Linked DNA regions of Homo sapiens: region 2 is linked to region 1. Evidence: fine-mapped expression QTL. A gene starts in region 1. The other region holds a variant in brackets. All regions are shown on one strand. Distances are from middle to middle.

The links. PIP is the estimated chance that this variant, and not a neighbour inherited with it, causes the effect. A credible set is the group of variants that fine-mapping cannot tell apart.
Region 2: its variant is the best candidate, but not a certain one, in a credible set for the expression of RIMS3 in whole blood (INTERVAL, PIP 0.89).

Annotation. Positions count from the first base shown.
Region 1 is chr1:40,664,069-40,666,973 of GRCh38, reverse strand. RIMS3 (regulating synaptic membrane exocytosis 3) reads left to right here and starts at 1,292. Exons shown (of 8, transcript NM_014747.3): 1 at 1,292-1,580. It overlaps LOC105378675 (a long non-coding RNA gene), which reads right to left. Exons shown (of 2, transcript XR_947238.3): 2 at 1-986. RefSeq lists a silencer at 1,147-1,576.
Region 2 is chr1:40,638,561-40,641,465 of GRCh38, reverse strand. The region is part of intron 3 of RIMS3 (regulating synaptic membrane exocytosis 3); the gene reads left to right. Among named protein-coding and RNA genes, the nearest start is that of RIMS3, 26 kb to the left of the region's middle. The variant G/C (reference allele first, on the strand shown) is at 1,536.

The DNA.
Region 1 (2,905 bases):
GGCTCACTGCAACCTCCGCCTCCTGGGTTCAAGTGATTCTCGTACCTCAGCCTCCCGAGTAGCTGGGACTATAGTTGTGTGCCACCACACCTGGCTAATTTTTGTATTTTTAGTAGAGATGGGGTTTCACCATGTTGGCCAGGTTGATCTCGAACTCCCAGCCTCAAGCAATCCACCCACCTTGGCCTCCCAAAACACTGGTACAGGCATGAGCCACCGCACCCAGCTCCCATTTACATTTTAATTCATGCCCTCAGCAGGGAGACTACTGGTTTTACATGCCTCCAGCAAATATTAATTATTCTGTCCTCTCTGTCAGTGGGTGGAATTCAAAACACTGGAGCCCAAGAGTGGAACTGACCAGTCCTAAGCAAGGTTAAATATACAAGTTGGGGCAGGCACGACCCTAGGAAAGACTTCATACAGTATCCTCCCGGGCTGCAGAAGAACCCAGGACTCCAGGAGTCTATTTGGAAGTTTATATAGGCAGATGCCAGGCCCTAGAACAGAGTTTCTCAACCTCAGAAACCTGCTGACATTTCGGGCCTGACAATTCTCTGGCGCAGGGGCTGTCCTGTGCATTGAAGGCGTGTAGCAGCATCCCTGGTCTCTTCTCATGAGACGCCAGTAGCAACCTCCTCGTTGGGAAAACCAAAAATGTCTCCAGACATGGTCGAATGTTCCCTGGGGGGCAAAATCGCCCCAAGTTTAAAACCATTGCTCTAGAAGTAGAGAGCGCAGGGGAAGCAGGTTAACTTGGGCTTCAGGGCCGGCCACTCTACTTCCTTCTGTCTGAAAGGGACATTATAAAGTCTTTCTCTTCATACCAGGCACTTGGGCAAGTCTTTTCTCCTATCTGAGCTTCAGATTTTCCATCTGTAAAATGGACTTGACGTTTGTAAGTCGTTTCTTCTCTTACCATCTGACGTTCCTGGAACTGCTTCAGGGCAGGGCAGGGCAGGGGGCGCCGTGGTGCCTGTGAGGTCCTGGGAGGTGCCCCAAAGAAAAGGAAGGATGAGAAAGAACAGATAGGGTAGGTGGTGGAGAGGGGAGGCCGGGCAGGAGGCAAGAGAGTCCTAGGGACACGGAGAGGAATGAGGCTTCCCCAGACCCCGCTTCTTGGAAGCCTCATTAATGTAGGTCCCCCAACCACAACCCGGCAAGCCAAACTCCCCGGATTCCCCTAGGCCCCGCCCACCACCAAGGTCCGGCCCACTGGCCCCGCCCATCCACGCGGCCCCGCCCCCGGCAGGCCCCGCCTCCCCTTCGCCTCCCGCCGGCCCAAGCTTGGGCTTTGCACCCGGCGGCGACTGAAAACGGTGGCTGCTGCGGAGCCGGCAGCGCAGGCGGGCGGAGCGGAGCTGCCCCCGTGGTGGCGGGCGATGCCCCCGTGAGCCTCCCTCGCCGCCCCTCCCCGCCCCGCGTGCCTATCCACTCGGAGTCCGCGCCAGCCTGGGGCCGGGCCGCGCCTACTGCCGGGTTCGCGGGGCGGGGTCCCGGGGCAGCACCTGCCCCGCCTTGCGGAGCCGCCTCGGCCTGTGGAGGCCCCCTCCCTGTCTGGACCCCGGCCCCACCTCCGGGTAAGTCAGCAGGCCTTGCTCGCCTGGGAGTGGACGTGGGGAGGGGGCTGCAGAGGTCTGGAGGACCACGGGGGGAGGGGGGCTCTGGCCATGAAGCGCAACGTAGGTATGTGAGTGTGCAGGGGCGGGGGTGGGGGGATGAACACAGGGTGTGAGAGGGCTCTGGGGAGGGGACTAAGGGATGAGAGAGGGACGTGGGGTGTTTGGGGAAGCCTGGAAAATGGGGAAGGGGGCCCAGAGTCTTGAGTTCTTTGCTGATGCTCAGAGCTCCTGGGGCCCTGGTCTTCAACAGCATTGCCTGGCATGGCATTTTTGGAAAGTGCTTAAAATCCCTCCTGGAAAGGGAGCTGGAAGGCAGCCTGCTTTTCTCCCTTCTGCCTGTGCCCTGGTTGAGAAGCAGCCACTTTTTCCTCAACGTGACACCGTTGTGGTGTCCAGAGGACCCCCTCCACCCCATAAAAGAAAAGGAGTGCTGCTTACTCCAGCCCTGGGGTGGGAAGAGGGGGCTTTGGGAAGCTGGGAATGCAGTTGGTCAGCAGCATGGTGCAGAGCCCAGGGTTCAGGGAGGCTTGGCAGGACCCTTGATGGGCAACTTGGGCATGCTCTCATTCATAGGGAGGAGCTCTTCCCTGACTGGCCGCCTGGGTACCTGGACTCCATGTCCCCATCACCTCTGGACAACTCAGCCCTGAGGAGTGGGTTTCTTCAGTGTCCTGGTCCTGAAGGCTCAGGAAGGATCCTGGAATGGGGTGGGCAATGGCATATCAAGGCTGGAGAACAGGGGGCATTGGCTGGCACTGCCACTTGGGGCCTGTTTCAATGTGGTCCTTCAGGGCTTGGACACCTGGGTGAATATGTGTCCAACCCTAGCCCCAGGGGTGTTATCAGGATGTAGGGAAGAAGGCTGCTGCTCCTTTGGTCCTGTCCTCTATCCATGATGACTTCTTAAGTCTGGGTTCCTTGGGTTTGGGGCCTGAAGTCATGGGAGGAGGATTGGGCCTGGTCAACAAGGGGTTAATGAGCCATCTCCCCCACCCCACCATAGTTGCTGCCAGCCACCAATTAGTCTGTAATCAGGCAGCTGCCAACTGTCCCTGGGGGCATGTGGGTAGCCTAATGGGGCATTCTTGGTTGGGAGGCGGGGTGGGTGGGTTGGCAGGGATGTGCTGGGGAGGTGACCCATGTGCCCTGTGCTTAAACCAAGCACCATGCCCTTTGTTGTTTGTTTAGGGCCCACAGACCCCTTCCCTGCCTTCTGTTCCTGACTGCCTTGCTTAGGGACTTCCAGCCCTGGGGTTCTACACTTATCCGACCCTTTGCAGGGT
Region 2 (2,905 bases), 26 kb after region 1:
TAGTAGGTGGTGGAGCCTGGATTCAAACTCTAGCAGTTGGGCTTCCTAGCTGATGCTCTTAACCTTTACACTCCACTGTCTCCACACACAGACATTAACCAGTAATTACTTATTAAACAGCCTTATGATCCTGGCACTGTGTAAGTGACACCACAGTTTTACAGACATACACATCCATAAGATTTAGTCTCAAGTGCTGGGTGCAGGGTTCACACCTATAATCCCAGCACTTTGGGAGGGAGAAGCGGGAGGGTCACTTGAGCCCAGGAGTTTGAGACCAGCCTAGGCAACATAGTGAGACCCCCTGGTTTAAAAAACAAAAAAGATTCAGTCTCGCCTGTAATCTCCTAGTCTCCTAAATACAAATAGCCACACAAATGCAGTTCTGTAGTCCCATGTATATGTTACAAAGCACAAGGGAGACACACACAAAGATGTGTGACTTGTGCAGTTACATAAATAGAACGCTCAGTGTCTCTGGTAAGCTGCCCGTATTTCCAGGGAAGCATAATAGAGTAATTCACACTGCGCATGGTCACAGATAAAACCAGTCATGCAAACCACACAGACACAGCCCTCTGATTACACATGCACAGACCCAGATCACAGAAACATGTCACATGTGTGCAGGTGTACATCACAAAGCCACATTCACACACACCTTAACAGCTCCATCCTCATCAATACAGTATCCTTTTTCAGACACCTAGCTGCAGAATCTCAGTTATGTTCAGCCTGGTGGGTGACCACCTTGTGACATACATAGACCCCACATCACAGAGGAGCCAGCCCTCCCCACCAAGACCTCCTCACTTTGTGGTATCAGCCCAGACACCAGCTGGTTTTGTTTTAAAATCTCTTCCGGCTTATTTTGTTCAGAGTAACAACTTCCCCAGAAACCTTCAAATAGGCAGCTGGATGGGATGGTGAGGGGGCGGGGGCTCCGGAGGATCCAGGGAGAATGCTCATCAAGGCTCCCAGTTGGGGCTGGGGGTGGGGGACTTTTCCAGGCCTTAAAATAGATTTATACAAAGCCGTCGACAGTAGCACGTGGGCTGGTCTTTTCCAGCAATCAAGCTGTGATGTGGTTTCTCGCTGGGGAAAGCTATTATAGGTGGGGAAGGGGCTTGAGGTTATCAGAGCCCTAGAGTGGGCATGGCCTCTGTGAATATGCAGTTTAGGCCTGGTACTAGAGAGTCAGGGAGATGGGGACTTAGGGATCTAGAAATTGGGCTGGGACAAGGAAGGGGCTGAGATAGGACTAAGGAGTGAGATTAAGATTAGAAGGTCGTGGAGGTGTTGGACCCCGGGAGTCTGGCTCCAGGGGACCAAGCCCAGAAATCCAGCTGATTCAGCTTCAGACCCAAAGGCTTCTTCATGCCCAAAGTGATTTGGGGGGACAGTCTTCCAAGGCCAGGATGGGGACCTGAGTCACTGGGAGAACCTTCTAGTGGTCTGCCTTGACTTTACAGGCTGCAGGCAGGGATTGGAGCAGATACCAGGAAGACCTTTCATCTTGAGAAGAGATGAATGAT[G/C]ATGGGGCTTCTGAATCCCTTGTCTCCTTGGTATGCAAGGGCATGGCTAAAGGACTGGAGCTAGGGGAACTGCCCAGATGCCCTTCTAACTGAAGGTCTCTGTGAATCAGCTAATTGCTGAATGTGAGTGAGGAGAGTCCCTTGAGATCATCTAGTACGCTGTACTTATTTTATTGATGAGGCATCCAGAGCCTGGGGAGAAAGCATGTTCCTGGAGAACGACCTCAAGTTCAGATCCATCCCCTGTCATTTACTAGCCGGGTGACTAAGGCAAGTTACTTCACCTCTCTGAGCCTGCTGCCTTGTTTGTAGAATGAGGGCAATGATACATGCCTTGCAGAGTTATCCAGGGAATTAAGTGAGATAGGGTATGCAAAGGCACCCAGCTTCATGCCTGGCACATAGTATAGGCACTCAGTGAAGTGTTGATGCTGTTATTATTACCTGCCATTGTACCATAAAGCCAAAAGAGAAGTGAGTTCTCAGCCTCCACACCTCTGCTCCTTCCCTGTAGCACGTTCCTCTCCATCTAGAATTCCTTCTCCATTTTTTGCCCCCATGCCTTGAGGATGCCAGTATCCCAGCTCGGACCCACCTCATGGGTGGGAGCATCTGGTGCCAGAGGAATATATGAGGCAGACTCATGGGCATTGGCTCTGGAAACTGTTCTGGGAAAGACCTAGAAGGGTGCCCCCACTCCTGACAGATGAGATGGCTCCATTCCCTGCAGGGCTGGGCTGTGTGAAGTGGGGAGGAATTCCTCTCCTGGACTCTGTCTTCTGGGCTCAGGTCTGCCCTTCCCAGGGCCTCCTTCCTCCTGGTGTGTCCGTACTGTGCAATGGCTAGACCTCTGCCCATCCTTCTTTGTTTCAAAGCCCCTGCCCTAGTACAGGACCCATAATATCTAGCCTGGACGATTGCACCACCCTCCTCTCTAGCTCTCCTGCCTCCTGCCTGCCTTCTTCCAGTTTATTCCTCTTGTTGCCCTAGAGTGGACTTACAAAAACTCACTTTAGAGGGCTAGTCCTGGCTCTGTAACTCACCATGGGACCTCGGGAAATTTACTTTTCCGCTGGGCCTCAGTTTCCTCTTCTGTAAAATGGAGCTAAAATGCTCTCTCCCAGTTTCCTTCTGGATCTGACATTCACTAAGTCGTGGGAGCAGTGAGGAGGGTGGGGTCAGAGCTTTGGGTCCAGGACACAGGTGGGTTCTGGTCTGGCAATTGGCTGGGTCTACACAGGACCATCCTGGGCTGTCCCAGCCCCTGCCCAAACGGAGCTAGTATTTTCAGTACCAGGGACAGTGGCTTTCCCCTTCTGGACTCTGGGATCTGGGTCAGGGTAGAGAGAGGGCTCAGGACCATTCCAGAA